Homo sapiens: one gene and its partners. The protein of the gene in region 6 interacts with the protein of the main gene of each other region in a pairwise test. Each region holds a gene or a part of one and is shown on either strand. Other genes may lie near its edges.

What was found.
Region 1: the proteins of BAG3 (region 6) and alpha-crystallin A2 chain interact in binary tests that used the Homo sapiens proteins (3 or more experiments, as listed by UniProt).
Region 2: the proteins of BAG3 (region 6) and FAM168B interact in binary tests that used the Homo sapiens proteins (3 or more experiments, as listed by UniProt).
Region 3: the proteins of BAG3 (region 6) and BOD1 interact in binary tests that used the Homo sapiens proteins (3 or more experiments, as listed by UniProt).
Region 4: the proteins of BAG3 (region 6) and UNKL interact in binary tests that used the Homo sapiens proteins (3 or more experiments, as listed by UniProt).
Region 5: the proteins of BAG3 (region 6) and RUNX1 interact in binary tests that used the Homo sapiens proteins (3 or more experiments, as listed by UniProt).
Region 7: the proteins of BAG3 (region 6) and RETREG1 interact in binary tests that used the Homo sapiens proteins (3 or more experiments, as listed by UniProt).

What each region holds. Positions count from the first base shown.
Region 1 is NC_000021.9:6,558,203-6,561,595, forward strand, and holds part of alpha-crystallin A2 chain, read left to right. Parts: intron 1-1,869; 5' UTR 1,870-2,580; coding exon 2,581-2,769; intron 2,770-3,393. UniProt on the Homo sapiens protein: Contributes to the transparency and refractive index of the lens. In its oxidized form (absence of intramolecular disulfide bond), acts as a chaperone, preventing aggregation of various proteins under a wide range of stress conditions.
Region 2 is NC_000002.12:131,069,461-131,072,960, forward strand, and holds part of FAM168B (myelin-associated neurite-outgrowth inhibitor), read right to left. Parts: exon of another isoform or gene 2,562-3,500; intron 2,479-2,561; coding exon 2,395-2,478; intron 1-2,394. UniProt on the Homo sapiens protein: Inhibitor of neuronal axonal outgrowth. Acts as a negative regulator of CDC42 and STAT3 and a positive regulator of STMN2. Positive regulator of CDC27.
Region 3 is NC_000005.10:173,610,151-173,613,650, reverse strand, and holds part of BOD1 (biorientation of chromosomes in cell division protein 1), read left to right. Parts: intron 1-395; coding exon 396-520; exon of another isoform or gene 521-524; intron 525-3,500. UniProt on the Homo sapiens protein: Required for proper chromosome biorientation through the detection or correction of syntelic attachments in mitotic spindles.
Region 4 is NC_000016.10:1,397,705-1,401,204, forward strand, and holds part of UNKL (putative E3 ubiquitin-protein ligase UNKL), read right to left. Parts: intron 1,806-3,500; coding exon 1,670-1,805; intron 1,238-1,669; coding exon of another isoform or gene 1,138-1,237; exon of another isoform or gene 597-1,137; intron 436-596; coding exon of another isoform or gene 376-435; intron 1-375. UniProt on the Homo sapiens protein: May participate in a protein complex showing an E3 ligase activity regulated by RAC1. Ubiquitination is directed towards itself and possibly other substrates, such as SMARCD2/BAF60b. Intrinsic E3 ligase activity has not been proven.
Region 5 is NC_000021.9:34,787,303-34,790,802, reverse strand, and holds the end of RUNX1 (runt-related transcription factor 1), read left to right. Parts: 3' UTR 1-3,002; downstream 3,003-3,500.
Region 6 is NC_000010.11:119,675,380-119,678,319, forward strand, and holds the end of BAG3 (BAG family molecular chaperone regulator 3), read left to right. Parts: intron 1-1,084; coding exon 1,085-1,903; 3' UTR 1,904-2,440; downstream 2,441-2,940. UniProt on the Homo sapiens protein: Co-chaperone and adapter protein that connects different classes of molecular chaperones including heat shock proteins 70 (HSP70s), e.g. HSPA1A/HSP70 or HSPA8/HSC70, and small heat shock proteins (sHSPs), e.g. HSPB8.
Region 7 is NC_000005.10:16,606,998-16,610,497, reverse strand, and holds part of RETREG1 (reticulophagy regulator 1), read left to right. Parts: intron 1-3,500. UniProt on the Homo sapiens protein: Endoplasmic reticulum (ER)-anchored autophagy regulator which mediates ER delivery into lysosomes through sequestration into autophagosomes.

The DNA of each region.
Region 1 (3,393 bases), on a different chromosome or scaffold from region 6:
GGAGGCTGAGGCAGGAGAATCGTTTGAACCCGGGAGGCAGAAGTTGCAGTGAGCTGAGATTGTGCCACTGCACTCCAGCCTGGGCGACAGAGCGAGACTCCATCTCAAAAATAAATAAATAAAATAAATAAGTAAATCAAAATGAATGCAAAAAATTTGTGGTGGACAAACTGTCAACATTTTACATAAAGCCAGGATGAGGACGACGGCCTTCTCCTTTTGCTTCAAGCTCCAGCATGGCTCTGCCCAGCACTGACCGTGCTCCTGGCCTGGCTCGACCCTCCCCAGGGCCAAGCTCCATGCTGGTTTCCATCCCAAAGGACTCTTCTTCCCCCTCCCTGTGCCCCGGGAATAGGCAGCCAGCACAGTGGGGCCGCCCGCTGCCTCACCCAGACCCTGCCACTGCTTGGATGTTGACCCCCAGACTGGAAAGGTGGCTTTAAACCCCCTTCCCTTCTTCCAAGCCAAGTGACCTGGGTGTGCGGCTTAACCTTCTAAGCTCCCATTTCCTGGTCTATGAAGCGGGAATGATGCTGGGACCTGCTTCACAGGGTGGCTCTGAGGACCCACAGGCAGAGAGGTCTGGTGTAGGCTTTCGGGGGAAGCACCCATCACTCTCCCAGCGTTTCCTATCTGCACCTTAATTTGGCACCCCAGGGAATCGCTCCTCTGGAATTGTAACCTTGCAGGGCAAAAGCTATCATTTCAAGATTTTTTGGGATCCTGTGTCCCCGGACAGTGCTGTAAATGTAGGAGGAAGGGTGCTGCTCATGGGTGCTGCTCATGATGGAGGTGCCCCGTGGAGCACGCCTCGGAGCCCCCCCTTTCATCCCTGATCCCATCTGGGATGTGTCAGGTCTGATCCGCATACACTGGGGCATCTGACATTTCATGGCCTTCTGAGCCCATGGGCTGGAGATGAATTTGCAAAGCCCGGGAGTGTCCTGGGTGTGTGTTCACTCCACACGCACGAATCTGTTAGAGGCTGAGTAGGAACTAGGAGGCCAAAGAGAACCAGGCAACTTCCCACAGCCTGGACCGTACACTAGAAAAGCTAGCCTGGGAGAGGGGGCATGGCCTCTTCCCAGGCTGGCAGGGGGGATGTGGGGGAGGACCATGCTCCCCAGGGCCAGTTTACCAAAATATCAAAATACCAAAATATCAAAAGACTTAAAACTAGGAGTGAGCCAGGTGCAGTGGCTCACGCCTGTAATCCTACACTTTGAGAGGCCAAGGCAGGTGGGTCACCTGAGGTCAAGAGTTTGAGACCAGCCTGGCCAACACGGTGAAACCCTGTCTCTACTAAAAATACAAAAATAATAATAATAATAATAATAATAATAATTAGCCAGGTGTGGTGGCAGGCACCTGCAGTCTCAGCTACTCAGGAGGCTGAGGTGGGAGAATTGTTTGAACCTGGGAGGCAGAGGTTGCAGTGAGCTGAGATCGCGCCACTATATGATCTGGGCGCCACTCTGGGTGACACAGCAAGACTCCATCTCAAAAACAAACAAACAAAACCGGGAGTGCCTGGACACTTAGTGAGAACTGGACAGGGGCCATGGGTCGAGGAGCAAAATAATCACCAGGACTTGTGGATAACAGGATCATGTGGGTGGTGGGTCCGCATGGGTGACAGGGACGTGGGGACATGTCGCCACCCTGACAGGAGCAGCCCAACTCAACAGCCACGGCAGGTCATGCCACGGAGGCTCGAGGCGTTACGTGGGGATGTTACATCAAGGCATTACATCATTACGAGATGTAACGCTCGAGGCGTTACATCGAGGGGATGATGGCCATGGGGCTGGGCGTCCAGGGTGGGCCGCAGAGGGAAGCTCACCACGTGGTGCTCTCATCTGCCCACAGCCCAGCCCGTCTTCCTGTTGGAGGCATGTGACCCCTGGAGGACAAGCATGAAACGCCATAGGGCTCCCCCAGGTGCTGGAATTATGGCACCTTGCAGCTTCTTCTCCACGAGTTTTAACAAGCATGCGTACTTTTGTAAGTGGTGAGTGTAACGGAGGTTCACAGATGCACTCCGCTTTGGAAACCAGTGCACTCTTGCCCAGGCCCGGTGAGACTCTGACGACGATGTGTCTAACCTCTGTGTCTAACGGGGGTGTGGGCTCTCCCTCCTCTGGCGACCATGAGGACCACCCCGGCAGGACAAGGTGTGCAGAGAACTAGCATGGTCCCTGGCACGTAGCCCCTGCCCAGTGACTGGCAGATGAGAAGCTCCATTGTCGCCCCAGGCGAGTATGGGGCACAGGCGCCTCCTTGGGTTGTCTGCCCTCCCGGGAGCCCCAGGGTGCCCAGGCGGGCCTCAGCTGAGTCCAGGCCTCGGGGACAGTCCGTGCAGCCCCTCCTGGGGCTGGGGGCGGGCACTTGTCCCAGCCACGTTTCTGCTGACTGAGCAGCCTTCTTCATGAGCTCACGCCTTTCCAGAGAAATCCCTTAATGCCTCCATTCTGCTGGTGGCATATATAGGGAGGGCTCGGCCTTGGCTCCACACTGCGCTGCCCAGAGGCCCCGCTGACTCCTGCCAGCCTCCAGGTCCCCGTGGTACCAAAGCTGAACATGGATGTGACCATCCAGCACCCCTGGTTCAAGCGCACCCTGGGGCCCTTCTACCCCAGCCGGCTGTTCGACCAGTTTTTCGGCGAGGGCCTTTTTGAGTATGACCTGCTGCCCTTCCTGTCGTCCACCATCAGCCCCTACTACCGCCAGTCCCTCTTCCGCACCGTGCTGGACTCCGGCATCTCTGAGGTAAGACGTGGCCCGTGGTGCTGGCCTCTCCTCGCTGCTCAGAGGGTGGTGGCCTCGGTGGGTGGAGAGCGATGGACTCTGGTCTTGCTCCGTCAGGCAGGTGGCCTCGTCCCACTTCATCCCCTTGCAGAGGCTGGGCGAGAGCCTGTGTCCCCACTGCAGCCACGTGGTAGAGCTTCCCCTGGCACTGGGGAGAGGGTGGACAAGGGAGCAGCCTGAATCCACCTTTGCTTTCCTCCATCAGCTCATGACCCATGTGTGCTTTGTAAGGCACCAGCCACATACTGGAAACCCCAAGAGCAGCCCATCCAGGCATGCGTGGTGGCGAATGCCAGCTCCCGGGTTCCTCTGGTCTCCTGAGTCCCGGAGACCTGGGAGCAGGTGGGGGTCATAGTCCTGAAAGCCAGAGAGCAGGGCGTTCCTAGCACCTCCTCCAATGAGCTCGGCCTGCCCACGGCTAGCAAAGCTCTTGGCAAGTTTACTTAGGTGCCCTGCCAAGGCTAAAAGGACAGGCAATGGACGCCCCCCCCCCCCACCCAACCACAGGCCTCCTCTCTGAGCCACGGGTGAGCGGTGCAGGTTCTGCTGTTCTGGAGGGCCTGAGTCCCACCCAGCACCTCATAA
Region 2 (3,500 bases), on a different chromosome or scaffold from region 6:
CTTTGTGAAGTTAGGTTACACAGGTTTCTTTCTCTTTTGTTTTTTTTTTTGGGGACGGAGTCCTGCTCTGTCGCTCAGGCTGGAGTGCAGTGGCGCAATCTCGGCTCACTGCAAGCTCCGCCTTCCAGGTTCTGGCCATTCTCCTGCCTCAGCCTCTGGAGTAGCTGGGACTACAGGAGCCCGCCACCATGACCAGCTAATTTTTTGTATTTTTAGTAGAGAGGGGGTTTCACCGCGTTAGCCAGGATGGTCTCGATCTCCTGACCTCATGATCCACCCACCCCGGCCTCCCAAAGTGCTGGGACGACAGGCGTGAGCCACTGCGCCCAGCCAAGTTACACAGGTTTATTAAGTATGGTACCAAAAGCATGATCCATAAAACGACTAACCCTCATCAAACTTTTTTTTTTTTGGTTGAGACGGAGTCTCACCCTGTCGCCCAGGCTGGAATGCTATGGCACGATCTCGGCTCACTGCAACCTCTGTCTCCTGGGTTCAAGTGATTCTCCTGCCTCAGCCTCCCTAGTAGCCGGGATTACCGGAGTGCGCCTCCAAGCCCAGCTAATTTTTGTATTTTTAGTAGAGACGGGGTTTCACCACGTTGGCCAGGCTGGTCTCGAACTCCTGACCTCATGATCCACCCGCCTCAGCCTCCCAAATTGCTGGGATTACAGACGTGAGCCACCGCGCCCAGCCTAAACTTTTAAAACCCCTGCTCTTTAAAAGACGTTGTTAAAAGAATGAAAAAGCCACAGACTGGGAGAAAACACGCATATATCTGATAAGAACTCTCAAAAACTCAACGATAAGAAAACAATAACTGACATACAGTAAAAGCAAATTCTTCACCAAAGACATACAGAAGGCAAATACGCACATGAAAAGATACTGCTACACATTCACTAGAATGGCTAGAATTAAAAAGACTGACCACACCAAGTGTTGTTAAGGATGTGGAGGAACGACAACTCACAAACACTGCTGGTAGGAATGTAAAATGGTACCACCACTTTGGAAGACAGTTTGGCAGTTTCTCACAAAGTTAAATATACACTTGCCATAATAACCAGCCACTCAAATCCTCTGTATTTATTTACTCAAGAGAAATCAAAGTGTATGTTCACACAATAACCTGCATATAAATATTAATAGCATTTTCATTTGTAATAGCCCAAAATTGCAAATAACCCAAATGTTCATCACATGGTAAATGGATAAGCAAACTGAAGTATTTATTTCCATACAACAAAATACTACCTAACAATAAAAAGGAATGAACTGCTAATATACACTACGAGATGGATGGTTCTTTCAAGGCAAAACACAAAAGGAAAACCACTCTAAAGGGAAAAAATGGGCCAATATGGCAAACAGCTAGGGACTGAAAGTCGAGACTCTAGGCATAACTGTGTCTCACAGTCATGGGAAACCACTGAGAAAAATTCATCTGGGAGCATCGCTCTGGTTTAAATGGGAAGAACACTAACCCGGGGAAAGAAAGCTTGGGAGCAGGAAGACCAAGTCAAGAACGTTTTTCTCAGGGTGTGAACTACGGTCTGAACAAGGGTGGTCATATAGGGTCATAGTGGAAGTGGAAATGGAAACGAAGAGATGGATGTAAGGACAGAATATAAAGGCAGAATTTTATGATTAACAAAACAGGAAGAATCTGGGGAAAGGACACTGCTGTTGTCTCCTCCTCTGTCAAAGTTAACTGTGTGAAGCTACTGTTGAGGGATAAAGTTGCCCCAGCAGTCCCAGGATTAAGGCCAAACCACAGCCTCAGATCAGAGTGTGCACCACCACTGCTGCGGCAGAAAGGCAAAGCCCCGTGTGGGTGAAAAAAGTCCAAAAGGAACCAACACCAGAGAGTGCAGGCTCCTAGCAGGAAATCCCACTAAATAACCAATCTCCTCAAGATTCAGACCCAAACCAATTCCACTTTTAATATTAACAGTGATTTCCAAAATCTAAAAATATTCATCTATACATTACATGGAAAATAATACTTTTTTAAAAAATATTATCAGAGTGCTAAAGTAGTCTAACCAAAAATTATCTCTAAAAACATTAACATGGAAATTCCACCTGTTGGCATGGCAAGAAATTCTTCAATTTCTAGTAGGTGATACTATTTCATGAACAGATGCTCTGGCAGAGTTAACAACCTAGTGATTACAGATTTGCCTTGTGGGAGGACATGAGAAACACAGTATATAAAGCTTCAGTGCAGTAAGAATTAAGCTTTTGTTGCACTTATCAACAGGCTAACTTAATGAACTTGAGAAATCGACTCAACCAAGTCCTAATTCTATACCCACCCCTCTCAAAATCCACCCCTTCACCTTTCTCTCCCAGCTGTACGTACAAAGCATTTTACCACCCAGCACATACCTGTTTGGAAGGTAGGATTCGCTCCAGGATACATGTTAGGAGAATAGGCAGGAGCTGCTGCTGCATAGCCCATGGGAAAACCAGCTGAAGAAAAATAAAGAACAATCTCATGTCATCAACTGAAGTAGCGACAATCACTAGAGCTCCTGCAAAGCCATCGCTCTTACCTTCTTCCCCAGAACTCCACAGACTTAAGCAGCCCCAAGAGCACTATGTGTGGCCAACAGCATGTCTCTAGTTGTCTTCTTCCCGCAGAACTTTGTTTTTTTTATCGTTGTCGTCTTTTGAGACAGAGTTTCACTTTCATCGCCCAGGCTGGAGTGCAATGGCATGATCTTGGCTCACTGCAACCTCTGCCTCCCAGGTTCAAGCGATTCTCCTGCCTCAGCCTTCCGAAGAGCTGGGATTACAGGTGTGTGTCACCACACCTGGCTAATTTTTCTATTTTTAGTAGAGACGGGGTTTCATCACGTTAGCCAGGCTGGTCTTGAACTCCTGATTTCAGTTGATCCACCCGCCTCGGCCTCCCAAAGTGCTGGGATTATAGGTGTGAGCCACCACGCCTGGCTTTCCCTCAGAATTTTGATAGGTAACAATTATATATTTTATTTTTATTTATTTTTTGGAGGGGGACAGAGTTTCACTCTTGTTGCCCAGGCTAGAGTGCAGTGGCGCGACCTCGGCTCACTGCAACCTCCGTTTCAAGCGATTCTCCTGCCTCAGCCTTCCGAGTAGCTGGGATTACAGGCATCTACCACCACGCCCAGCTAATTTTTGTATTTTTAGTAGAGACAAGGTTTCACCATGGTGACCAGGCTGGTCTCGAACTCCTGACCTCATGATCCACCCACCTCAGCCTCCCGAAGTGCTGGGATTACAGGCATAAGCCACCGCGCCAAGCCTCAATTATAACATTTCTGGAAGTTTCATTCCAAACTCTAATCACATAATTACTTAGCAAGAGTAGTAAGAGTGCTAAGGGTATCACACGCTAGGTCCTGTTACCCTCATCTGACTTCACTGCACAAAGTCTGGAAGAATCAGAATTCAAGTCTAGCTTGGACTCAAGGGCCTATTTTTGCTGCTACCAGTGAACAGCTAAGCCT
Region 3 (3,500 bases), on a different chromosome or scaffold from region 6:
GCAGCTTATAACCAGCACTTGTTCACATGTTCATGGGGCGGCAGGTCTACCAAAGTTCAGCTGAGCTAGGAAGGCTTCAGCTGGTGGCTTGGCTGCAGGCTGCCCAGGTGTGGGTCCAGGCTGTGGGTTGATGTCAGGCCTGCTGCATGTAGAGTTACTTAAAAGCAAATGGAATAATATAAGTAAAGCGCCTGGCATTGTGCCCACCCACCATCAGGTGGGCACTTGTGTTAACCATTAATTCCTGACTGCCACATTGCATGGTGATCTTCATGCACAGTGGAAGTGTATTTAGACTTAATAACGTTTCTGTGAAAAGCAGTGTTCTGAGAGACTAAGTTCAAAACTTTGGTGCATATAACTTCTGACCTTGCCTCCTCTTTTTAACATTTTAGCCAGCTTACCAAAACCTGAGGCAGAAAGTGGATAATTTTGTGTCAACACATCTGGACAAGCAGGAATGGAATCCTACGATGAACAAAAACCAGTTGCGAAATGGTCTGAGGCAGAGTGTGGTTCAGTAAGTAAGCAGAATTTAAAGCTTTTGAAAAGGCAGTCATCACAAGTGTGATGCACAAGAAGGTTGAGGTCTCTGTTTAGTCAAGGTTGATGGGACTTTATATCAAGTATCACTTAGGAGTTGCAGCAGTCTGCTCTTTTGTTATAATTAAGGTTAAAGGAAGCAAAGTACTCAGTTGAAATTCCAGTTTCTGCAGCCTGTGAAGGCCTCCTGTGTGCATCTCTACTGGGTGCATCAAAAGGCATTCCAAATCGTGAGACATTTTCCCTGCTCTTTGAAGTTTCAGTGTTGTCCAAACATATATGTGAGTTTTATACCAAGATATCAGGGTTTGGATCTTGGGCAAGAGGAGTTGGATCTTTATTCTCACAGGTGAATGTGAACTAAATAAATTCTTTGAGTCCACCAGGACTGCCACCTCTAAAGTGTAATGGTGACAGCTTTCAGGAAGGCATAGTCTTAATAAAGTATCGTACTTCACAGTAACAAACTGAACCTTAGTTAATAAAGGTGCTATTGATAGCTTATCTGAGTGACGCACAAAAGTGGAGGTGGAGGAGGGTACAGAAATGGGAGAACACATTAGTGATTGCCTGGGGTTACGGATGGGAGGAGGGGGTGAGTGTGACTTGCAAGTGGTAGCACAAGGGGGAGCTTGCAATGGTGCAGTTAAGTGTCACTGAATTGTGCTGTGCTCACGTGCAACAGCTCGTATGGTAAAGTCGCACGGAGCTACACACACAAATAAGTGCAAGTGTAACTGAAGTCTAAATAAGGTCTGGATTGGACCAGTGTCATTTTCCTGGTTTTGATATTGCACTAGTTACGCAAGGTGCTGACATTAGAGCTGGCTGGGTGAAGGGTGCGTGTGGAACTCCCTGGACTCTTCTTCACAACTTCCTGTGAATATGCAGCGATTTTAAGATTTCTAAAGTTTTTAAAAGTGTTTTACTAACAAGCTAGTACTTCCAATATGGCTGAATGCTGGGAAGAAGCCTGATAGCAGAAGATGCCCAGTGCCTTGTCATTCTGGAGTCAGTACCGAGTGCCTTTCCCTTTCTCCAGAGAACAGACTGGTGGCACCGGGCTCTTTCAGAAAGAAGGGGACAGTAGCTGCCCCTTACTGAGCAACTCTTTATTACATGTCTGGCACTGGTCTTTACATATATCACTCATCCTCATGAAAAGCCTGTTTCACAGCTAAAGTCACTTGTGTTTACCCTGTCTTGAGTAAATCAAAACACTGAACATTCTGAAATATTTGGAAAGTTGCCATGATTGTATGAAGGCTGTTAACATTGCTTTGATTTCTGTAATGAGCATGGATGTCATTCTAGAGGTATGCATGTGGCGCTTCCTCTTGCATTTCTTTAGTAGGAATTGTAATACGGAAAAGTGCACAGAAGTTCAGTGAAACAGATAATTAGAACATCCCTTGATCACCCAGATCGAGAAATGGACTCACACCCCCGAAACAGCCTAGCTCCGGATGTACTTTCCTCCTTTCGGAAGTTTTCCATATTCCTGACTTTTATACTAATCATTTCCTCTCTGCATAGTTTTTACCACCTCTGTGAAGTTGTTGTTTTTTTTTTTTTCCCTGCTTTTTGATTTGACTTAGAATGTGTTTAACCTGAAAACATGAACTTGGCTTTAATACTGGGACATTTCTCCACAATTCTTGCTAGCATTTTGAATTTGAGGCAAAATCTACTGGAGTTTCGAAACGCAGACTTTCTGCTTGCCCCCAGGTGCTCTCCCCAGGTGGACACTGCAGGCCTTCAGAGCATTGGCTCACTGGCCTGGCTGTTCTGGCCCAGATGCTGTAACCCAGTGCCACAGCCTAGAGGGTTTAACAGGAAATTAGCCTGTGCTATTGCACTGAATTATGACGAATAACTCTTGTAACTGTACAATATTTGTTTTTTCCATCTTGTACATTGGGCTCCTGACAAGATTTTATGTTTTCCTCAAAAGTTTAAGAATCTCCAGGAAAGTGAGCTGCACTCCCTTGGTAGTTTGTTTCCCCTGATCAGGGGTTTTGGTCAGTTGGGGATGCTTTAACAAGGCGCCGTAGACTAGGTGGCTTGTAAACAATGGAAATTTACTTCTCACCATTCTGGAGGCTAGAAGTCCAAGACCAAGATGCCAGCATGGTCAGGTTCAGGGGAAGGCCTTCTTGCAGGCAGCAGACTGCCAACTGCTTGTTCTTCTCATGTGGTGGAAAGAGAGCTCGCTAACTTCCTGGGGTCCCTTTTGTAAGGGCATAAATTGCATTCGCGGAGGCTCTGCCCCCATGACCCGATCGCCTCCCAAAGGCCCTACCTCCAAAGGCCATCACATTAAGGATTAGATTTCAACATAGGAAGTCTGGGGGACACAGGCATTTAGTTGATAATATCAAGCTTTTACATCTGGTAAAGGACCCTGTGAATCCGACTCAGGAAGTGGTTTGGTAAAGTTGGAAAGGTATTGGCTTGTGACTGAGGAGAGGTGGCTTTCCTTTGTTAGCATCCCATAGCCGGATGCTAACTTTGCTGTATTTAACGATGCTCATCACTAAGGGCCGATACTGTCTAATGCCTGGTCTACCTGAAAATGTGCCCTTCAGTGCTCTAGTGGTGGTGTATTTACATCTAGGCTTCCTGTCGATAAGCTGTTAGTTACCATTGAATCCAGGGAGCACTTTACACACTAATCATCTTTCCCAGTTCACAGCCTGTTTCTTATCTTCTTTGTCATGATGTACATTTACTCATGTCTTTCCTTTGCTGTACCCTGACAGACCATTTGCCCACTTGCTGCCCAGCCTATTTTTACCCGAAGGCTTAAATGGCCTCTGAAGTCTCAAGTCTACGGGAAAATAAGTAAAACCTGCCCACATGCTTGTGATGGTATTGGAATATTTCAGTCCTTTGAGAAGAACACTTCACTTTGAACCTTACGGGCTATTTTCCAGACTGTCCAAATATGATTTGTT
Region 4 (3,500 bases), on a different chromosome or scaffold from region 6:
GCTTCACGCTGGGGCAGGGCATGGACCTGGGGATGAGGAGGTGTCAGGGGGACACAGAGGACTTGGCTCCCCCACCCCGACCCCCGTGCTTCACGCTGGGGCAGGGCGTGGACCTGGGGATGAGGAGGTGTCAGGGGGACACAGGAAAACATGGTTCCTCGTGTGCCCAGGGGTGTCTGCCTCCCACCAGGAGGGGCCTCGGGCATGGGGCCCTGGAGTGACAGGCAACGCAGCTCTGCGCTCACGGACACGCAGGCCCGGCCAGTGCCAGGATGGGGTCAGGAGCCCCGGGGCTGTTCTTCACAGAATTTAACTTGAGTCTCAGTCAGAGCCACCCTCACGGACGTGGAGAACGCAGGGGAGAAGCAGCCGAACCTCCTGGGGACAGTGAGGCCGGGCGCCCAGACAGCACGGGGCTGTCTCCTCGCCAACTTTCTATAAAATGGAAGCGAGAGTTTTGATCCCACAATTTAAAACTCCGCACCAATTTCAAATTACCTATGTTCCTACTGCAGTGAGCTGAGACTGCACCACCGCACTCCAGCCTGGGCCACAGAGTGAGACTCTGTCTCATAAAAAAACAAAATCCTCTACTCTTCGTGGAATCTCTAGCTGCTTTATTGTAACTGATTTGTATTTATGGGACACATTAAGTGCCTGTTGAAAAAATAATTTTTATTTTCTTTCCATGACGGGCGATGACAAAATCTCAGACACTAATTTGTGGTTTGTTCTACAGCCGTTCAGGTCCTTTACTCGGAAGCTGCTCAGAGGGAGACTGAACGTGGCATAACAACAAGGAGTGGGGCGTCCTTCCCAAAGGAAGCACAGGTGCTCTCCGGGGCATGCGAGGCAGCACCAGGTCATTCAAAAGAGGCGAGGGTGGCTCTCTGCTCAAAGGAAGAGCTGGACACAGACAGGGCCTCAGGGAGGCCAAGGCCATGGCCCAGGCATCCAGACACCCTGTGGGGTCTGCACCCCCCCACCCCCCTCTCAGGTGCAAACTGCAGACAGGAGGCAAGCCAGGCCAGGCACAACCAGAAGGCCGGGCTGGAGCAAGGAGGAGAAAGGGGCTTCAGAGGCAAGCAGGCTGCGAGGTGCCAAACCCACAAGCCAGACCCAGGGGACAGCTGGGGCTCAGGCGGTGGAGGAAGGTCCTGTGTGCACCCTGGGCAGGGCGACCCTTGGGTTGTTGGCCCTGGGACTCAGCCTAAGGACCCGGCGTCCCAGCTGCCAGCTGTGAAGACAAGATTGAGCCCAGGTGACGACAGTGCCTGAGCCCCTGGCAGCTTGGGTGAGGAGACAGCATGCAGCCCACAGGCTGGAGAGCGTGGCTGCAACCAGAGGCACGGGTGGGGCACACGGGGGTCCCAGCTGGGCTTGGGGTCCCTCCTGCAGTGCTCCGTCCCCTTGCCTGGCAGAGGGGCCCCGGTAGGGGACTGCATGGGAGACACTGAGCGTAGGTGGGGAGGCCCATCCCCAGGACAGACGCGTGGGCCTCCATGGCACCTCCCACAGCCACTGTGCTTGGAGATGCCCTCCCCTCCCGGGGATGATGGTGCCACAAGGGCAGCCCTCCCATTAGAACCCCGGGGTGGGCAACGCGAGCCACGGGCCGGGAAGGACGCCCACCAGCCGGAGTCCTCTGAGCACGGTCCCGCAGGCTCACCTGTACTGGAACCGCCGGGGGTTGCGCCGCCTGTCCCGGCTATTGTGGTAGTGTGGGCACGCATAGCCCTGGCGGCACAGGCGTGGCGGCTTCGGGCACTGCTCCGTCTTGTAGCTGCCCAGCACGAAGTTGGCATCTGAAAAATGGGCCACACGGTGCCTGAGCAGCGCGACTGGAAGCAATGCTGGGCAGAGGAGACCAAAGGTGGAAGGACCTGGCTGTCCCCCAAATGGAAGGGGCTGCAGGAGGACTTGGGGAGCGCAGACACACGCCACGGCACACGCTGATGTCAAAGGACTCGCGCTCCATGAGGGAAGCCGGGCCAGAAGGCCACGTGGTGTGATTCTGTTTATGTGAAAATGCCCAGAACTAGGGAACCCACAGAGACGGAGTGGAGCCGAGACCACCAGGGCTGGGAGGGAGTCCTGCTGTGGGTGTGCGGCTTCCTTGCTGGGGGATGAAAATGTTCTCCAACTAGAGAGAGGTGATGTGTGCACAGCTTTTGAGAATATGCTAAAATCCAGAGACATGCACACCCCGAAATGCCGCATGGTGAGCCTCATGCGCACCACAGCCTCTGGGTGACAAGCACACATCAGTGTGGGTTCACTGTTGGTAAAGAGCGTACCTCGCAGTGCAGGAGGTGCACGGCAGGGGAGGCTGAGGGGGCAGGGGGTGTTTGGGAAATCTATTTTTCTACTCAGTTTTGCTGTGAACCGGAAACCGCTCTAAAAAATAAAGCCTATTTTTAGAAGTCATTCACTGGGCCGGACGTGGTGGCTCACGCCTGTTATCCCAGCACTTTGGGAGGCCGAGGTGGGTGGATCACAAGGTCAGGAGTTCAAGACTTGCCTGGCCAACACAGTGAAACCCCGTCTCTACTAAAAATAAAAAATTAGCCGGGCATACTGGTGCCTGCCTGTAATCCCAGCTACTCAGGAGGCTGAGGCAGGAGAATTGCTTGAACCTGGCAGGCGGAGGTTGCAGTGAGCTGAGATTGTGCCACTGCACTCCAGCCTGGGTGACAGAGCGAGACTCCATCTCAAAAAAAAAAAAAAAAAAAAAAAAAAAAAAAAAAAAAATCGCTGCCATACGCAATGTCCAGAATACACAAATTCACAGAGATGGGATGCAGGCCAGTGAGTGCAGGGACCAGGGAGGGGATGGGGAGGAACTGCTCATAAGCAGGGGGGTTCCTTCTGCAGGGATGGAATGTTCTGGAACTAGAGAGAGGTGGCAGCTGCACAACACTGCAGACGTGCTAAATGCCACTGGACTGTACACTTAAAAATGGTGCATTTTATGTTGTGTGTATTTTACATTTTTTTTTTTGAAACGGAGTCTCACTCTGTCACCCACACTGGAGTGCAGTGGCGTGATCTTGGCTCACTGCAACCTTCACCCCCCGAGTTCAAGAGATTCTCCAGCCTCAGCCTCCCAAGTAGCTGGGATTACAGGCGCCCACCACCACAACCGGCTAATTTTTTGTATTTTTAGCAGAGACATGGTTTCACCATGTTGGCCAGGCTGGCCTCAAACTCCTGACCTCAAGTGATCTGCCCGCCTCGGCCTCCCAAAGTGCTGAGATTACAGGCGTGAGCCAGTGCTCCCAGCCTTACCACGTTTTTTTTCAAATCAAAATCTCCCCTGCATATAACCTCATCTGTGTGCCAGCCAGGAATGCAGGTCCCCCAGCCCCGAGGGACAGCCCCCTGGTCCATATGTTTCTGGCCAAGCTCAGGGATTTGAAAGCTGCTGTCTAGAGCACCACCCCAGAGAGGCGCAGGGCTGGGGGCTCTGCTGGGCATCCTGGTGGGTGCCTGGTGGGCTG
Region 5 (3,500 bases), on a different chromosome or scaffold from region 6:
ATTTAAGGGCCCACCAGAAGCAGGCCTCGAGGAGTCAATTTGCCTCTGTGTGCCTCAGTGGAGACAAGTGGGAAAACATGGTCCCACCTGTGCGAGACCCCCTGTCCTGTGCTGCTCACTCAACAACATCTTTGTGTTGCTTTCACCAGGCTGAGACCCTACCCTATGGGGTATATGGGCTTTTACCTGTGCACCAGTGTGACAGGAAAGATTCATGTCACTACTGTCCGTGGCTACAATTCAAAGGTATCCAATGTCGCTGTAAATTTTATGGCACTATTTTTATTGGAGGATTTGGTCAGAATGCAGTTGTTGTACAACTCATAAATACTAACTGCTGATTTTGACACATGTGTGCTCCAAATGATCTGGTGGTTATTTAACGTACCTCTTAAAATTCGTTGAAACGATTTCAGGTCAACTCTGAAGAGTATTTGAAAGCAGGACTTCAGAACAGTGTTTGATTTTTATTTTATAAATTTAAGCATTCAAATTAGGCAAATCTTTGGCTGCAGGCAGCAAAAACAGCTGGACTTATTTAAAACAACTTGTTTTTGAGTTTTCTTATATATATATTGATTATTTGTTTTACACACATGCAGTAGCACTTTGGTAAGAGTTAAAGAGTAAAGCAGCTTATGTTGTCAGGTCGTTCTTATCTAGAGAAGAGCTATAGCAGATCTCGGACAAACTCAGAATATATTCACTTTCATTTTTGACAGGATTCCCTCCACAACTCAGTTTCATATATTATTCCGTATTACATTTTTGCAGCTAAATTACCATAAAATGTCAGCAAATGTAAAAATTTAATTTCTGAAAAGCACCATTAGCCCATTTCCCCCAAATTAAACGTAAATGTTTTTTTTCAGCACATGTTACCATGTCTGACCTGCAAAAATGCTGGAGAAAAATGAAGGAAAAAATTATGTTTTTCAGTTTAATTCTGTTAACTGAAGATATTCCAACTCAAAACCAGCCTCATGCTCTGATTAGATAATCTTTTACATTGAACCTTTACTCTCAAAGCCATGTGTGGAGGGGGCTTGTCACTATTGTAGGCTCACTGGATTGGTCATTTAGAGTTTCACAGACTCTTACCAGCATATATAGTATTTAATTGTTTCAAAAAAAATCAAACTGTAGTTGTTTTGGCGATAGGTCTCACGCAACACATTTTTGTATGTGTGTGTGTGTGCGTGTGTGTGTGTGTGTGTGAAAAATTGCATTCATTGACTTCAGGTAGATTAAGGTATCTTTTTATTCATTGCCCTCAGGAAAGTTAAGGTATCAATGAGACCCTTAAGCCAATCATGTAATAACTGCATGTGTCTGGTCCAGGAGAAGTATTGAATAAGCCATTTCTACTGCTTACTCATGTCCCTATTTATGATTTCAACATGGATACATATTTCAGTTCTTTCTTTTTCTCACTATCTGAAAATACATTTCCCTCCCTCTCTTCCCCCCAATATCTCCCTTTTTTTCTCTCTTCCTCTATCTTCCAAACCCCACTTTCTCCCTCCTCCTTTTCCTGTGTTCTCTTAAGCAGATAGCACATACCCCCACCCAGTACCAAATTTCAGAACACAAGAAGGTCCAGTTCTTCCCCCTTCACATAAAGGAACATGGTTTGTCAGCCTTTCTCCTGTTTATGGGTTTCTTCCAGCAGAACAGAGACATTGCCAACCATATTGGATCTGCTTGCTGTCCAAACCAGCAAACTTTCCTGGGCAAATCACAATCAGTGAGTAAATAGACAGCCTTTCTGCTGCCTTGGGTTTCTGTGCAGATAAACAGAAATGCTCTGATTAGAAAGGAAATGAATGGTTCCACTCAAATGTCCTGCAATTTAGGATTGCAGATTTCTGCCTTGAAATACCTGTTTCTTTGGGACATTCCGTCCTGATGATTTTTATTTTTGTTGGTTTTTATTTTTGGGGGGAATGACATGTTTGGGTCTTTTATACATGAAAATTTGTTTGACAATAATCTCACAAAACATATTTTACATCTGAACAAAATGCCTTTTTGTTTACCGTAGCGTATACATTTGTTTTGGGATTTTTGTGTGTTTGTTGGGAATTTTGTTTTTAGCCAGGTCAGTATTGATGAGGCTGATCATTTGGCTCTTTTTTTCCTTCCAGAAGAGTTGCATCAACAAAGTTAATTGTATTTATGTATGTAAATAGATTTTAAGCTTCATTATAAAATATTGTTAATGCCTATAACTTTTTTTCAATTTTTTTGTGTGTGTTTCTAAGGACTTTTTCTTAGGTTTGCTAAATACTGTAGGGAAAAAAATGCTTCTTTCTACTTTGTTTATTTTAGACTTTAAAATGAGCTACTTCTTATTCACTTTTGTAAACAGCTAATAGCATGGTTCCAATTTTTTTTAAGTTCACTTTTTTTGTTCTAGGGGAAATGAATGTGCAAAAAAAGAAAAAGAACTGTTGGTTATTTGTGTTATTCTGGATGTATAAAAATCAATGGAAAAAAATAAACTTTCAAATTGAAATGACGGTATAACACATCTACTGAAAAAGCAACGGGAAATGTGGTCCTATTTAAGCCAGCCCCCACCTAGGGTCTATTTGTGTGGCAGTTATTGGGTTTGGTCACAAAACATCCTGAAAATTCGTGCGTGGGCTTCTTTCTCCCTGGTACAAACGTATGGAATGCTTCTTAAAGGGGAACTGTCAAGCTGGTGTCTTCAGCCAGATGACATGAGAGAATATCCCAGAACCCTCTCTCCAAGGTGTTTCTAGATAGCACAGGAGAGCAGGCACTGCACTGTCCACAGTCCACGGTACACAGTCGGGTGGGCCGCCTCCCCTCTCCTGGGAGCATTCGTCGTGCCCAGCCTGAGCAGGGCAGCTGGACTGCTGCTGTTCAGGAGCCACCAGAGCCTTCCTCTCTTTGTACCACAGTTTCTTCTGTAAATCCAGTGTTACAATCAGTGTGAATGGCAAATAAACAGTTTGACAAGTACATACACCATATCCAATTGGTTTTGTCTTTCTCTGAGATGGAGGGTTGGGAAACTGAGTAAGGCCCACTGCACACACTAGGAAGATACCTCCAGTGAACAGCTTCAGGCTGAAGCTATGTCCTCACCCCCGGTGCTCCTAGCACACTCTGGCTTCTGAAGGCATGAGGGCCTGGAAAAGGCGCAGGCTCCCAGGGTTGCTTCTTTGCATATGAAAGAGCACTGAAGCATGTTTTAATGCTTGTTTTAAAAAATAATAATAGGCCGGCGCGGTGGCTCACGCCTGTAATCCCAGCACGTTGGGAGGCCGAGGCGGGCGGATCATGAGGTCAGGAGATCGCGACCATCCTGGCTAACACGGTGAAACTCTGTCTCTACTAAAAATATAAAAAATTAGCCTGGCGTGGTGGCGGCTGTAGTCCCAACTACTCAGGAGGCTGAGGCAGAAGAATGGCGTGAACCCGGGAGGCGGAAGTTGCAGTGAGCCGAGATCGCGCCACTGCACTCTAGC
Region 6 (2,940 bases):
AAACCTGTGCAGCCAGAGGTTAGCACAGAGGCGCTGTGTCATTGCTGAATGTTAGGCTACAGCACAGCTATCCTGAAGCAAAATTGTTCTGGAGTTAACCATTTAGAGCATCTTGGCTAATCCTAAAAAAATACATTGGTCTGGGCAGAAACTACTAGGCTGTCACGGTTTTAAAAAAAGAAGATCGTATCTTTTCTAAAACAGGAGACAAGAAGATCACACCGTGAGCAGACTGTCTGCACAGTGTAAGGAAGAAGGACCAGAGGCAGCGACTCCAAGGCTGCAACACCTGAGAGCTGGAGTCACTCAGGACTCTGCTCTGAGTCAGCCTAGTTCAGCAGTCAGCATGAGTTTTTGCTATTTTTTTCCTTCTTTCCTTCCTTCCTTCCCTCCTTCCCTCCCCCTCCCTTCCCCCCTTCCCCTTCCCCCCTTCCCTGCTTCCTTCCCCCTTCCCCCTTCCCTCCTTCCTTCCTGCCCCCTTCCCCCTTGCCCCCTTCTCCCCTTCCTTCCTTCCTTCCTTCCCCCCTTCCTTCCTTCCTTCCTCCCTCCCTCCCTTCCTTCTTTGAGACAGGATCTCGCTCTGTCACTCAGGCTGGAGTGCAATGACATAATCGTGGCTCACTACAGCCTTGAATTCCTGGGCTCAAGCGATTCTTCCGCCTCAGCCTTCTGAGTAGCTGGGACTACGAGTGCAAGCTCCCACACCTGGCTAATTTTTAAAGATTTTTTGTAGGGTTGGGGTCTTACTATATTGCCCAGGTTAGCTATTTTCATTTTTGAAAATTTTATTGGGTTTCTTTTCATTGCCATTAAGAATACCATCTACAGAGAAATTCAGTGAGAGGTAATAGACAAATAGCCTGGGGTGATCAATGGAAGCCTGACTAATGATTGGGTTACATACATGATTAATACCATGTTTTTATTTTGTAACAGCCATTGATTGACTTTGAAAATCTTTTATACTATTAAACTTTTTTTAAAAAGCCATTTCTCAGTTTTCTTTCTAATCTGTACTAGCTACAAACAATTTCTGTGACTTTCAGTCAGTTATTAAAAATATATTTTTGTGTCCTTTTTTCAGCAGCCCATGACCCATCGAGAAACTGCACCTGTTTCCCAGCCTGAAAACAAACCAGAAAGTAAGCCAGGCCCAGTTGGACCAGAACTCCCTCCTGGACACATCCCAATTCAAGTGATCCGCAAAGAGGTGGATTCTAAACCTGTTTCCCAGAAGCCCCCACCTCCCTCTGAGAAGGTAGAGGTGAAAGTTCCCCCTGCTCCAGTTCCTTGTCCTCCTCCCAGCCCTGGCCCTTCTGCTGTCCCCTCTTCCCCCAAGAGTGTGGCTACAGAAGAGAGGGCAGCCCCCAGCACTGCCCCTGCAGAAGCTACACCTCCAAAACCAGGAGAAGCCGAGGCTCCCCCAAAACATCCAGGAGTGCTGAAAGTGGAAGCCATCCTGGAGAAGGTACAGGGGCTGGAGCAGGCTGTAGACAACTTTGAAGGCAAGAAGACTGACAAAAAGTACCTGATGATCGAAGAGTATTTGACCAAAGAGCTGCTGGCCCTGGATTCAGTGGACCCCGAGGGACGAGCCGATGTGCGTCAGGCCAGGAGAGACGGTGTCAGGAAGGTTCAGACCATCTTGGAAAAACTTGAACAGAAAGCCATTGATGTCCCAGGTCAAGTCCAGGTCTATGAACTCCAGCCCAGCAACCTTGAAGCAGATCAGCCACTGCAGGCAATCATGGAGATGGGTGCCGTGGCAGCAGACAAGGGCAAGAAAAATGCTGGAAATGCAGAAGATCCCCACACAGAAACCCAGCAGCCAGAAGCCACAGCAGCAGCGACTTCAAACCCCAGCAGCATGACAGACACCCCTGGTAACCCAGCAGCACCGTAGCCTCTGCCCTGTAAAAATCAGACTCGGAACCGATGTGTGCTTTAGGGAATTTTAAGTTGCATGCATTTCAGAGACTTTAAGTCAGTTGGTTTTTATTAGCTGCTTGGTATGCAGTAACTTGGGTGGAGGCAAAACACTAATAAAAGGGCTAAAAAGGAAAATGATGCTTTTCTTCTATATTCTTACTCTGTACAAATAAAGAAGTTGCTTGTTGTTTGAGAAGTTTAACCCCGTTGCTTGTTGTTCTGCAGCCCTGTCTACTTGGGCACCCCCACCACCTGTTAGCTGTGGTTGTGCACTGTCTTTTGTAGCTCTGGACTGGAGGGGTAGATGGGGAGTCAATTACCCATCACATAAATATGAAACATTTATCAGAAATGTTGCCATTTTAATGAGATGATTTTCTTCATCTCATAATTAAAATACCTGACTTTAGAGAGAGTAAAATGTGCCAGGAGCCATAGGAATATCTGTATGTTGGATGACTTTAATGCTACATTTTAAAAAAAGAAAATAAAGTAATAATATAACTCAAAATGGTTTTTGTGGTTTCTAAATCTTTGAAAGCAGTGGCATCATGGAGATTGTCTGTCCCTGGTTTCAGTCAGAATAAATGACAGGTGCATTTAACAAGCCTGCTTTGGGTTTTGTGACGTCTCCAATAGCCCGGCTCAAGAGAGAATTGTCTTGGTCACCTTTCAGTCTCAGATTGCAACAGGAACCTGGGAAGACTCAGGGCTGTGAACTCCGGTAATGGGAACATGCCTGCTGCATCCGTTCGGACCGACCCAGCCAACAGCCAAGGTGCCAGTTAGGTAGCATGTCTGCCCACCTGTCCTCAGGCCTCACCAAGAAGCTGAGATTGTCCAAAAGTGCCCAGAGGGCCTGGCGCAATGGCTCACACCTGTTATCCCAGCACTTTGGGAGGCCAAGGCAGGAGGATCCCTTGAGGCCAGGAGTTTGAGACCAGCCTGGGCAACATAGCAAGACCCTGTCTCTACAAAAAACAAATCAGCCAGGTGGTGGCATGCGTCTTC
Region 7 (3,500 bases), on a different chromosome or scaffold from region 6:
GCAAAAATTTTCTCCCATTCTGTAGGTTGCCTGTTCACTCTGATGGTGTGATTTGGTTTTGGACCCATGGTTGGAGACCATGGCATTTAGAAAAGTCCATGCATAGGCCTTTTTCCTTAGTGCCTGTGGCATTGCATGATGATGGCATTACCTTCTATTGGTATAAATAGTAAAACTGTAGGAAAGTGATTTGCCTGAGGTGTCCACGCAGGGGCACCCCTGGCGGGAGACCTGGGTCACTCTGACTTTTCAGGCGTCTCAGGCTGGGCACCAGGCAGTCCTGAATGCCAGCAGGACCTACCGAGTCAAATTGTTTTGGAAGGTTGCAGGGTTCAACCTCCCACTTGATGTCAAGCACCCCTTCTCTGCCAGCCTGAATGGGGTGCCCCAGCTTGCGTTAGAGCCATGGCTCTCAAAGTGAGGTCCTGGGCTAGCAGCATCCACATCACCAGTGTCACCTGGAGATGCAAAATCATGGGCCTCCTCCACACTCACTGAACAGGAATCTCTGCAGGTGGGCCCAAAGCATCTGGGTTTTCTCCAGCTCTCTAGGTGATTCAATACATGTTCCAGTTTGAGAACCATTATGTTTGAGCACTTTCTGGAATTGTGAGCTGTCTTCTCCATAAGGCAGCATTTCCATTGCTGGGCGGCACTCACTGGTCAGTGTTTTCCTTACATGAAGGCCATTGCTTGATTGTCTCCGCAGCTGCCCAGGATGTAGGCCCCTCCCCAGGATCGCCCTTTGTGTGTTTCAAAATCCATTCTCTTCTTGGTTCCCACTGAGTCTTCTCTTCCCCGGCTGAGAAATCCTGGGCCCTTCCACTCACCGCTGTCCTGTCTCGTTTGCAGATCCTTCTGGCCGGGCTTCAGTTCATCTGTATTCTGCCTGGAATGCAGCATTCCTTAGGTGGCCTGGCCGCTGCATACTCTCTCCCTTCCTCCTGGATGGCGTCCTTCTAGCCTCACAGCCTGAGATAGAATTTCTTTACTACAGTTGACAATAACTCCCTTTTACAGATGCTACTATCGCTGGTTGTTAGACTCTTAAAAATAAGTAAATATATATCATTTAGTGCTTTGTCAAAGTATGGCTATATGTATAGTTATATACAGTTACAGTTATATACAGTTACAGACTTCAGTAAAGTCAAACTTTACTAAAGTTATGATAAAGGGTGTTCACATGTAGCATCGTATTTAAACCTTGCAGGAACCCAGTGAGGCATGTGTTGTTCCCATTTTACACAGGAGGAAACAGGAGGCCCAGAAAAAAGTTAACTGAACACCAAAGATGACGTTGACCGGTACTGTTCAATAGAATGTTTGTAGTGATGGACATAGTCTGCCTTTGCACTGCCTGTTATGGTAGCTTCCTGTGGCTGTTGAGCATGTGAAGTGTGGCTAGTGGGACTCGGAATGCCATTTGACTTTTATTTAAGTGTAAGTTTAAATAGCCACACAAGGCTAGTAGCTGCTGTGTTAGCATAGTCTTAGATAAGTGCTGAAGCTGGGTAATGAAGCAGCGTCCATTTTCCCTAAATTCAATGATTTTTCTACCCCATCTCTCTAAAGAAAAATAGGAGACTATTAGGGCTTACTTTTTTCAATATTACAGAATCATACTTAATGATTTCAGCACAGAGTGAAAAAATTATATTGGGAGAGGGTTGCTTCTGCATGAATGGGAAGGATCTTTTTAGACTGTCAGCCAGCCTGGTCCAAGTTCCTCGCCTTATCTTTGTTCCGTCTGAGTAGTCGGTACCTGTGAATGAGTGTCTGCTCCCTACCCAGTGTGGTCAAGGGGGTATACCTGGGCCCAGGGGGTATACCAGAAGCCCAGTGCCTGAACTCAGAGAGCCTACCCACTGGTTTAGGAGACACAGCTGATTTGGTGAATCGATTGAGAGAGTATGTCACAGTTCCAAATTGCATGTCATGGTCTCCAGGGCTTTACAGTTGAGGACAAAGTGGGGATGAGGGAGGTTTGGAATAGCTGATGAAAGTCTTGTGAGATTTATTGTATAAGCCCAGAAGAAAAGGTATAGTTTTAAAAGTGAGGTTAATGGTGAGCGATTTCCATGTAGGACAAACTCAGGAAGAAATGGGAGATGAGCACTGGATGTTGTCAGGATGGAGAGACTCTCCTGACTCACACTGAGGGTCTGTTTTGGGGACAGATAATTAATCTTGGGTTGCCGGATCCACATGAGATCTGAAACACTGTAGATGTTAAAAAAGGTTTGGTGAAATGAGCTGGACTAGAGGATATTCCCCTATGGTGAATAAGGTGGGGCTATTTAAAGACAGTGAGAGTGGGCCGGGCACGGTGGCTCACAATTGTAATCTCAGCACTTTGAGAGGCTGAGGTGGGCATATCACCTGAGGTCAGGAGTTCAAGACCAGCCTGGCCAACATGGTGAAACTCCATCTCTATTAAAAATACAAAAATTAGCTGGGCATGGTGGCATGCGCCTGTAATCCCAGTTACTTGGGAGGCTGGGGCAGGAGATTCACTTGATTTCGGGAGGTAGAGGTTGCAGTGAGCTGAGATCACGCCACCCCACTCCAGCCTGGACGACAGAGTGAGACTCTGTCTCAAAAAAATAAATAAAAAATAAAAACAGTGAGAGTGGAGGGGAGGGGAGGGGAGGGGAGATTTATGTGCTTGCTAGGGGGAATACCCAGAGGTGAGGCTGCAAATTCAAAGGGTGGGGCCAGGTTTTGAAGAGGTTACTATTGGACCATGCTAAGGAATTTGGATGACATGAAATAAGCAATACCCATCTATTACCCTAATATTAATACCATAATATTCCTCCCTTTCTTTCAGGACCTCCATTAAAATATACAACAAGTATTTCTTTTTTTGTTTTTTTAAATTGAGACAGAGTGTTGCTCTGTCTTCCAGGCTGGAGTGCAGTGGTGTGATCTTGGCTCACTGCAGTCTCCGCCTCCTGGGTTCAAGCGATTCTCCTGCCTCAGCCTCCCAAGTAGCTGGGATTACAGGCACCTGCCACCACACCCAGCTAATTTTTGTATTTTTAGTAGAGACAGGGTTTTACCATGTTGGCCGGGATAATCTTGAACTCCTGGCCTCAGGTGATCTGCCCATCTTGGCCAGCCGAGCCACCACGCCTGGCCAAAATATGACAAATATTTCCTGAGTGTGTGCTATATGCTGACACTGTTCTTGGTGCGGGGGATATAACAGCGGACAAACAGGTGAGATCCCTGTTCTCCCAGAGCTTATATTCTAGTGGTGAAAGTGGTAAAAAAAAATACAATAAACAAATATACAAAATGCCAGAAAAGGCCGGATGTTATGAAGAAAACTAAAGCAAGGACAAGGGATAGAGAGTGACAGAAGTTACTACTTTGTTGGGTGGTCATCATTGGCCTTTCAGGAAAGGACCTTGAGTAGACACCTGAAGAGCAAGTCAGGGAATGATCCAAGCAGGTAACTCTGGAGGGGAGTGTTCCAGGCAGAGGGAATGGCA